2 separate regions of the Homo sapiens genome follow, and region 2 is linked to region 1. A link means that fine-mapping ties the variant in region 1 to the plasma level of a protein whose gene starts in the linked region. Region 1 holds a variant in brackets. A gene starts in the other region. All regions are shown on their reverse strands.

What was found. PIP is the posterior inclusion probability: the model's chance that the variant is causal. Protein levels are from antibody-based Olink assays in UK Biobank. Linkage for the fine-mapping came from a reference panel and not from the study's own genotypes, which makes the PIPs less certain.
Region 2: BCHE starts here. The variant in region 1 is fine-mapped to the plasma level of the BCHE protein (UK Biobank, PIP 0.96).

What each region holds. Positions count from the first base shown.
Region 1 is chr2:216,527,378-216,532,768 of GRCh38, reverse strand. LOC101928156 (a long non-coding RNA gene) reads right to left here. Exons shown (of 3, transcript XR_923872.3): 3 at 3,186-3,499. Among named protein-coding and RNA genes, the nearest start is that of RPL37A, 31 kb to the right of the region's middle. The variant A/G (reference allele first, on the strand shown) is at 2,926.
Region 2 is chr3:165,835,169-165,840,559 of GRCh38, reverse strand. BCHE (butyrylcholinesterase) reads left to right here and starts at 3,137. Exons shown (of 4, transcript NM_000055.4): 1 at 3,137-3,246. RefSeq lists an enhancer at 3,025-3,319.

The DNA.
Region 1 (5,391 bases):
GGCACAGGATTCAAAGTTCAGCTCTGGCCGTGAGTCACAAAACTCAATCCAGGTGCTTCCATCTGAATCTTGGAAAGACAAAAAAAAAAAAAAAAAAAAAAGCCCTAATAAAACTGATAGTCTGGCTATCTGGGTTCAAACCACAAAACTAAATTTTAAAAAAATAGAGGCAAAAGATATTATATAGCTGCTATATTCCTTTCTAAATTCCTTCCTGCTTGGTTTTCATGGAACTGTTTCCAAGAATAAATCAGGCTTCTGTTGCATTTGCATTGCTGGAGCCTCCTGAAGCAGGAGATAAGAGGCAGCAATGTCAAAAAGGAAACTGGGTGGTAGGGTGGGAGGTGGTGGCAGAAGGAGGCCTAAAGCTTGAAGGACAGGAAGGATTTAAACAAAGTGAGGACAAATCTTAAAAAACAAACAAACAAAAAGAGTAAAACCCCAAAGGCTTTTGGGGAAACTGTGAGGCGACCAGTTAGTTTTAATAGGAATTATCAGGGAATTAAGGAGAGACTAGAAATATAGGCAATCTTAAATGCTTTCAGCAAATTAAAAATGTGACTTAACATCCCAGTAGCTATAAGTACACTTAGCATCCAGATCTTGGTTTCTAGTAACACTGTCCAATATAAAAAGAACTAGCGTTCTTTGAAGAAATGTCTGATTCTAGTAGGACTGTAGCAAGAAATATACAAAATGAGTTTGGAATATCTTGAAATACCAGAAAATAAAGAAGTGATCAACAACGAATTTTTTAAAAAACCTACAATACAGCTGGGCACGGTGGCACATGCCTGTAATCCCAGCACTTTGGGAGGCCAAGGTGGGAAGACCACTTGAGCCCAGGAGTTCAAGATCTGCTGGGCAACATAGCAAGACCACACTAAATTATGTATAATTCTCCCCCTGCAATTTTCTTTTTTCTTTTTCTTTTCTTTGTTTTTGTTTTTGAGACAGGGTCTCACTCTGTTACCCAGGCTGGAGGGCAGTGACTCAATCTCAGCTCACTGCAACATCTGCCTCCTAAGCTCAAGCAATCTTCCCACCTCAGCCTCCCAAGTAGCTGGTACTATAGGGATGTGCCACCACGCCCGGCTAATTTTTTTGTATTTTGGGTAGAGACAAGGTTTTGTCATGTTGCCCAGGCTGGTCTCAAATTCCTGGTCTCAAGCGATCCATCTTCTTTGGCCTCCCAAAGTGCTGGGATTACAGGCATAAGCCACCATGCCCGGCCCCCAATTTTTTTTTAATTAGCCAGGTGCGGTGGTGCATGCCTGTAGTCCCAGCTACTCAGGAGGCTGAGGAAGGAGGGTTCACTTGAGCACAGGAGTTTGAGGTTGCAGTGAGCTATGATTGTGCCACTGCATTTCAGCCTGGGCAACAGATGTATGCTGTCTTAAAAAACAAAACAAAATGGGCCGGGCGCTGTGGCTCACGCCTATAATCCCAACACTTTGGGAGACCGAGGCGGGCGGATCATGATGTCAGGAGATCGAGACCATCCTGGCTAACACGGTGAAACCCCTTCTCTACTAAAAACACAAAAAATTAGCCAGGCGTGGTGGCAGGCGCCTGTAGTCCCAGCTATTCCGGAGGCTGAGGCAGGAGAATGGCATGAACCCAGGAGGCGGAGCTTGCAGTGAGCCAAGATCGAGCCACTGCACTCCAGCCTGGGCGACAGAGCGAGACTCTGCCTCAAAAAAAAAAAAATCGTACCATAATGGGGATATGTCAAAGGGATGCAGGAGCCAACTGAAAGAGCTACCAATGAACAAAGCTGGAAAAAATTAAGCAATAAAATGAAGTAGTGTTGATTTGTAACCCAAAAATAATGTAAAATAAATATCCATACTGATATAAGTAACTGAATAAATGGAAAGAGAAAAAAAAATCCTATAGGAGAATCCTAAATAATTGATGTAGATATTGTACCCTCCAGAAGAGGGAACATAACTCTCCATTCCTTACATGTGGGCTGGGCAGAGTGACTTCCTTCTAAAGAGTAGGAAAGTGGGGAAAGAGTACCTTAACAGTGGAGAAACCAGATAAACACTGCTGAACCAGGTGATCAAGGTCAACGTAAAAGTGATAAATCATGTTGGTAACATGTGCCTTTGATATGATGTCATTAGAATGGCACTTTACCTGAGGTCCTCTTCCCAAAAACCCAAAACCCCAGGCTAATCATGAAACAAAACATCAGACTAATTCCCATAAAGGGGCTTCCTACAAAATACCCAGCCAGTGCTACTCAAAACTGTCAAGATCATTAAAACCAAGAAAAGTCTGAGAAACTGTCACAGCCAAGAGGAATCTGAGGAGGCACCACAAGTCAATGTACTGTGGTACCCTGGATGAGATCCTCAAATAGAAATAGACATCAGGTAGAAACTATCGACTTTAGTACATAATAATGTATCAATATTGGTTCATTGATTATAACAAATAGAGCACACAAATGTAAAATGTTAATAATACAGAACATTATGTATATATGGAGGGCACATGGGAACTCTCTGTGCTATCTGCTCAAATTTTCCTTAAATCTAAAACTATTCTAAAAAATAAAGTCTACTAAATTTTAAAAAGTCTAAAAAATGTGACTTAGGAAACTACCATTAGCAGGCACTTGGTCAGAAACTAGGGTAAAACTCCTGCTCCAGAACCTTCCTCCCTGGGAAAGTGCAAGAGGCAGGCACTTTTCTCCTTACTGGGACAAGGCCAACATGTGGTGAGCCTCAGGGACCTGCTCACTTTTACCCAGTGAGCCTGTAAGCAGGATCAAGCCTTCCTTGTGCCCATCCAGACAGCTATGTGTGTTACCAAACTGAACTGGGTCTGTTTGACTGCATGCAATGAAAAGCCAAACATGGCTGGGCGTGGTAGCTCACGCCTGTAATCCCAGCACTTTGGCAGGCCAAGGTG[A/G]GAGAACTGACCAAGGTGGAGTTCAAGACCAGCCTGGGCAACATAGTGAGACTCTGTCTTCCCAAAAGAATTTTTTAAAATTAGCCAGGCCCAGTGGCATGCACCTGTAGTCCCAGCTACTTGGGAGGCTGAGGCAGGAGGATTGCTTGAGCCCCAGAGTTCAAGACTACAGTGAGCCGTGATCGTGCCACTGCCTAGGTTACAGAGCAAGACCCTGTATTTAAAAAAAAAAAAAAAAATCCAAACACCAAAGCACTGGGTTTTTGTAGAAAGAAAAGTTTATTGCAAGGCTGCAGAGAAAGACAGGAGCCTGGCTCAAATCTGTCTCCTGGAGCTGGGGGCTGGGGCAGGTTTTACAGGCAGAAGGTAATGAGGCATGATCTTGGATCTTGCAATGAGGTGATGCCAGGAAGTGTAATCTAACTGGATCTTGCCATGGGATGATCTTTCCAGGGCTCAATCTGATTGGATCATGCCATGTGGTGTCCACTGTTATTTCAGTCCCCGTTCCTTGGTCTGAGCACTTAGATTCCATCAGCGTTGCATTTGGTCCATTTGGGTTTGCTTAGGTTACCTGCAACATGGAGGTAACTGAAATGTAACCATTTTATAACACAAAGTTGAACCAGATTGGGCTGGTTTTGCAGTTATGCATGTAGAACCACCTAGCTGATGGCTCCCTTGGCTTATCTAACACAACATAGCCTCAGCTACACAACAGCAGATTGGGCGGGATGGCAGAAGGTAAGAGAGTGTGGGACCACAGTCAGACTGATTTCCACTGTTGGATTACATCAACAAGAAGCCTCAGTTTCAACCTGTCATTAACATCCCTTTAAACTTCCTGATTTCTCTTTTTAACAAGAAAGAACACATCTCAGACTCAGACCTTTCTATAGGCAACAACATTCAGCACAAATTTAATAGTATTTTTTGTTTTTATTCTGACAGTTACATTCTATATGTGAAAATATGCTAGCATTCAATTTACAATAGTAATAGAGTTATTTCCTTGGTAAATAAACTAGGTTAAGAATATAAAATAATCACTTTCACCTTTCAGTTTAGGGGAAAAAACTAAGTTTGAAAACAACTTGATGGTGAAGCTGTGGGTAAACATGCACTACTGTATACTGCTGAAGGGAATTAAAGTGGGTATCCCTTTCATTCAGTAATTCGGCAACACCTATCAAATTTGTAAATGCACTCACCTCTTGACCTAGTGATTACATGTTTCTATTTCTGGCAATTTTAGCCTTCAGATATGCTTACTGTACTAGTAAGCTCAGGCTGCCATAACAAAATACCAAAGACTGGGTGACTTAAACAACATAAATTTATTCCTTATAGTTCTGGATGCCAGGAAGTTCAAGATGAAGGTGCTGGCTGATTTGGTTCCTGGTAAAGGATGTCTTCCTGGCTTACAGACAGCCACTTTCTCACTGTGTCCTCACATGGCAGAGAAAGATCTCTGATGTCTCTTGCTTTTCTTATAAGGGTACCAGGCCTAATGGGTCAGGGCCTCACCATTATGCCCTCATTTAACCTTTATTACCTCCTCACGGGCCCTATCTCCCAATAGAGTCATACTGGGAGTTAAGGCTTCAGCGTATTTGATGGGGGAACACAAATACTCAATCTATAACACATGTATAAACAAAATGACATATGTTCAATCTTATAGACTGAAAAATTAAATCATAAAAGAAAACAGCAAGATTATTCACACTTTTATATATATATCATATATAAATCATATTTTATATATATATAATAGCACTATTTGTAATAGCAAAGATGTGCAGGTTAAAGCAACTCCATCTTACATGCTAATCCACCATGTTGACTTCTGATTAATCCCAGTTCCGGGAATACCTCTAAGATTTCTATTTTATCTACTGTTCCTTGTGTAAGAGCATGTACTTACCATAAATTCTGCACTTAGATCAAAACAACCTTGACCATAAATCCTGCCCTTAGGCAGATTCACATAGCATTCTTGCCTTTCCCTAAGGGGCCAACTTCAATTATCCTACACATTCCTTCTCTAGGGTATAGAAGCCCTGGGTCTGGGGGGTAATGGCCCAGGATCTACTATCTCCTGCTGAGATGATGGTTTCTGTTCATAAATCCCTATTAAATGTGAGACACTGGATTTATCAGCCTCTTTGGTCTGTCAGCTTCCTCAGCCTTTAGGAATACATTTACATAAGATCTGCCCACTGTGCAACAAAATAATAGGAACAAACCTAAATATTCATTAATAGAATGTCTGGTTTAAATAAATTCTGGTAGATGCATACAATGAAAACTGTGGCCGAGTACAGTGGCTACACCTGTAATACCAGCACTTTGGGAGGCTGAGGCAGGCGGATTGGTTTGCTTGAACCCAGGAGTTCAAGACCAGCCTGGGCAATGTGGTGAAACCCTGTCTCTAAAAAAAAGAGAAAAAATTAGCCAGGTGTG
Region 2 (5,391 bases), not on the chromosome of region 1:
TTCGAGACCAGCCTGGCCAACATAGTGAAATCCTGTGTCTACTAAAAATACAAAAATTAGCCAGATTTGGTGGTGGGTGCCTGTAATCCCAGCTACTCAGGAGGCTGAGGCAGGAAAATTGCTTGAACCCAGGAGGCAGAGGTTGCAGTGAGCCGAGATCCTGCCACTGCACTCCAGCCTGGGCGACAGAGTGAGACTCCATCTCAGGAAAAAAAAAAAAAAATCTATCTATCTATCTATCTATCTATCTATCTATCTATCTATCTATCTATCTATACTTATATATACTTTTCTTTGTTATCCATATTCATTTCAGAGAATGCAGTGCTATTGTAAAAAAAATGAATAAAATTAATATAAGTTTAGAGCACTTTTTTGGCATCAGTATGCCTAAGGAAAACTAATGTATAATACAGGATTAATGTTTTTCACACCATCTCAAATCTTACTGAATGCTGCTATCTAGAAAACAGTGGTAACTGAGTTACAATGGGACCTTAAAAGCAAAAAACCACTGTGACTGGCTAACTGAAAGTGATCATAGAGCCAAAACCATAATGATTGTCCTGCCCAAGCTTCAGCATATATGGTTGCAAAATGTGCGCAGTGTTAATGCCGTGTCAAGTGTCTTGTGGTATTTCATCAGTGTCGCTTACAAGGCATACTCAACATTTAACAGCAGGATCATTAACCATCCATGCTGTGATGTAATGGAATAGTGCTTCCCTACTAACCCTGAAACAAGCTCACTGTGTGTGACCTACATCCTTCCGCTGGATGAGTGTGAGAAAATGATGACACCACAGAAGCAAAGCAGCTGCTGTAAGTTGAGCCACAAGGAAGAAACTCTCAAGACAGGAAGAATAAATGCTTTAGAGGTGCACTAAAATAATGAATGAACTAATGTGGCATAGCTGTGAAATCATGCGAGGAAAAGAACTACAGGGACAGTAACAGAAGGTGGTTCTTTGAAGTAAAGACATTGAGAAGAAGAAAAATTGCCAACTTGTGTAATCAGTTGATGTTGCTAGTTAGCCAGTTTAAACATGCGTTAAAGATAAAGATCTGCTTGAAACCAATTATTTTATTGTTTGGCTTCCTGTTTAAAGATGAAAATGAAATATGTGTATATATGTGACATATTTTACCTAGCAGTGAGTAGATGCAGGAAGCATGTAAAATGCTTTGCTGAATTCACTAACGTCACAAAATATTCCTTAATAATTGCCGCGTTTGATAGGCTGACCTTATGCTAGCACAGGAAACAATGCAGTGGACTTGGGTTGGAGAGAAGAATTTTGACATTTGGATTTTTAAAAATCATGTATATTGAACCCATGAACTCTCATGTGGAACATCAGATTTACTATATTTTAAACAGAAATGCCATCACTATAAAAACCATTGCAAATTTGTCAATATACTTCCATTTAAAAAGCCTTTTCCTGCTTTTATTGATTTATTGATTAATTTTTTTTTGAGACAGGATCTCACTCTGTCACCCACGATGAAGTGCAGTGGCACAATCGTGGCTTGCAGCCTCGACCTCCTAGGCTCAGGTGATACTCTTACCTCAGCTACCTCCCAAGTAACTGGGAATGTAGGCTTGCACCACCATGTCTGACCCATTTTCTTGCAGAAATTGAGTTTTGCTATGTTGTCCAGACTTGTCTTGAACTCCCAGACTGAAGCAATCCGCCCACTTAGGCCTCCTAAAATGTTGGGATTACAGTCATGAACCACTGTGCTCCACCTCCTTTTTCTCCTTTTCAGATAGATTATGTATTCTGTACCTTTTGTGTAACTAACTTGTTATTACATAAACTATATTCTAAATACATTATAAATTATTGTGATCATGATATTTATCATTGAATTAACACTGCCTAAGTAGCAATTTTCACAGAAAAGATAATTTTAAAAGACCAAAATGGTTATTCTCTTGGAAGCAGTTGACATAAAATAACAGAATAATACAGATTAAAATTCTGTTTTCCAACAGCTACTAGTGGTAAGAAATATAGTAAGCTTCTGATTTGTAGAAACCTTAGCTTTCTCATCTGATGAGGTGGTTAATAATATTAACTCTCATATTTGCTGAAATAATATAAAATATTTAATATAAATTGTCAATTATAATGACTGGCATAAGGTAGAATTACAACAAATGCTAATTATATTTGCTTGTTTGAAAATTTAACACTCTATTAAAAGGCAAAAAAGTGCTCACCTGCAAATATTAATACATGCCTTCTGTTTAGTCCATAGAAAGCCCACAAGTAAGAGATTCAAAAGTGAAAGCTATCACTTACAGAAGATTAAGAATATATTGCATTGAGAAGATAGGGATTAAGGAGTTTATCAAAGGTTTTTTAAAAAATTATTTTCCTGAACATCATTTCAAGAAAGATAAGCGCCAAAGACATAAATATATTCTCCAGAGCATGTGCACTGCAAGTTGACAAATGTGTCTCTTTTATAGAGTTTGGTGAAGGTTATTCATTTTATTTTTCCTGTCTTGACCAGAAAATTGTGGCTTCTCATCATGTATGACTGCCTGCAGGGTCTTCTGAATAGGAAATTACCAATGCTGAAATTTGTATGACTTAAATAAGTGTTGAAGTGTGGGGGTTGAAAGGAGATACATATCAGAGACATCCATTCAGTTAATAGAACTAAGTTTTTGATTTGCATAGCTTATATCTAGAGCATTGTGTTTCTTATTTTCTATATTACTATCTTCTCTAACTATATAATTAGCACAGATTGAAGCTATAATGGATTTCAATAATAGCACTACTTTAGAATGATGTATACGTCTTTAAATCTTAAGACAAGCATAGGAAATATGTATATTCTTAAAAAAAGGAAAATTTTTTTAAAGTTTAGAGTTAAAAGAAACATGCATTTTCTGTTACATTTCAGATTATTTTAGTTAAAGAATCTTCTATGCTTTTTTTCTTCATTCTTAGAAGACTACCTGCAATTGTAAAGCATGAATCCTGTAATACTTCTGTAAATGAATCACTATTGCATTTATACCATTAGCCTCTGAACAGATTTCAAGTTGCTGCTGCCAACTCTCGCGAGCTTTGTCAGTAACAGTTGATTGTTACATTCAGTAACACTGAATGTCAGTGCAGTCCAATTTACAGGCTGGAGCAGCAGCTGCATCCTGCATTTCCCCGAAGTATTACATGATTTTCACTCCTTGCAAACTTTGCCATCTTTGTTGCAGAGAATCGGGTAAGTTGCTCTGAATTTACACCTTCGTGTAGAGATCCAAGTTACTGTAAAGCTCATTCTGTGGGATGAGAGTGATCTCTTCATGTGTTTGTTGTGTCCCTTTGGTGCTCTGTGGGGAACAGTTACTGAAGCTTGCAAATGGGACAGAGGAAGTGAGCCAGCAGGCACATGCATCAAATCTTCCTATTATTCAGGGAACGCAGACTTTGTTTATTTAACTGCTGAGAAAATAATGAATTTATTCAACTCTGTATAAAGGACCATAGCACGTGTGGAATCACTGTGATATATATTCTTAGTGAGTTTCCTAAGAAAAAACATTTCATACTGGCTTACCCTTAAATGCATTGTTTATTGAATCTCTCTGTAAAAGTAATCTTTGATTAGTCTTCCTTTTTTTTTCTTTTTAAATGGGATAAAGTTAGTAGTTAACTTACTTTTTCCTGAACAAAATACTTTTCTCAATCAACATTTTGTCACCTAAAACTTTAACAGTAACAACTGGCAAATGAGAGGTCTGTTTATTTTATGTAAATAAAAACAAAACCTGTTTTCTAATTTGATTTACAGTGATTTATGAGCGTGTCCCCTTTGCCCTTTGTGTTCACTTTTTATATGTTTGTTTAAATTGTAGCAAAATATTTTACATTTGCTATTATTTTACTATTATAGAAATAGTAAGCAAATGTACTTTCTGCTCATCCTATAATCTTGTAAAACTATTATTTTGATAACATCAGTTCCACTTTAACCAGGGAATTAAATATTAAGGATTATAAAATCTATGAATGACTAAAAGTAAACTGAAATGTGATTTCATTGTTTATGATTTCTATTTATTATATATTTTTATTTTATGAGTATGTCTTCTACATTTTTATGAATATATTTCATGATAATAAACTCAATTAGGAGCTCCTGTCACTAGTCTGTGTAATGCCTTCCTTAATATAAACTATCTCATAGTTACAATAAATACAATGACAGTTTACTTATATAAGTAGTTACTTTGTTTAAGGATAAGCGTGAGCTTTTAAAGTGTGACTTTAACATTTGAATAAAAATCTTCAGAATTTTCTCTGGATATAAAATAAAGTAGTCTTTTGGATGCCAAATAAATTTCTAATTGGGTTATCAAAGTTCTGTTTTGTTCTCCTAATTTTTTGTTGTTGTTGTTTGTTTGTATTGTCCTAGTTTTTTAATTGTAAAAATATGTTTGGGATGTATTCCATATTTCATTTTTATAAAACATAAGCTACTAATAGCTAAACAAGTCACATCTTATCTATAAATTTGGTTCCTTCTTCGAGTCATTTCTTGATAAGTATAATATATATTTACATTGAATATTATCTTCATTTCGATGGTTTCTTGCCAGCATCTGCTCATTCTTACCAAAATTAGACGGTCCCAGATGTTAAGAGAATTGTAATTGAATAGATAGCAACCTAAGAGGAGATTTAATTTTCAGAGAAGACTCAAGAAATCTCTCTAATAAATGTTCAAATTATTCACACAATGAAGTTTGCAAATGTTCTTCCTAATTGAGGACAGATAAAACATCTTAAGTTTCTTATATCTAATGTAGTGTCTTCTATATGTATACATGCCTAAAGCATAGCTGAAGAATCCCTGAAAGACAGTGATGTAGTCTATTTATAATCAGACTTCCTCAATTCCCCACTTCACTTAGTCTGCAACAAAACAAGCTTTTTAAGTTTGATATAAAGACGTCGTTGTTCCAATTTCTTCAAATACATTTAAGAGAGCTTGTTCTAGATCATATTAATATTATCTAGATGGCTCTTTCTCTACCATTTTAAGAGGGTTTATTTCCAAGTAGAAATAAATATTTATTTAATTGTAACTTTTTAAAAGATAGGGAAATTATACACAGGGAAAATATTTTGAATATTTGCTTGAACATCTTTTAAAAATTCTTGGCTTGTCCCTTATTTTGAAAATCTGGTTGATATTCAAGTATCCCAAAAAATAGCTCTTTATACAAATTATTTTATCACACTCACATCTTATAGTATAACATTTAGTATTTTTTGTTAAAATCAGCTAGGGAATATTAATAGTACTTTCAAAATTGAATTAAAAATACAAAAAAAGATTTGTCACCTTTTTTATTTGAAAGTT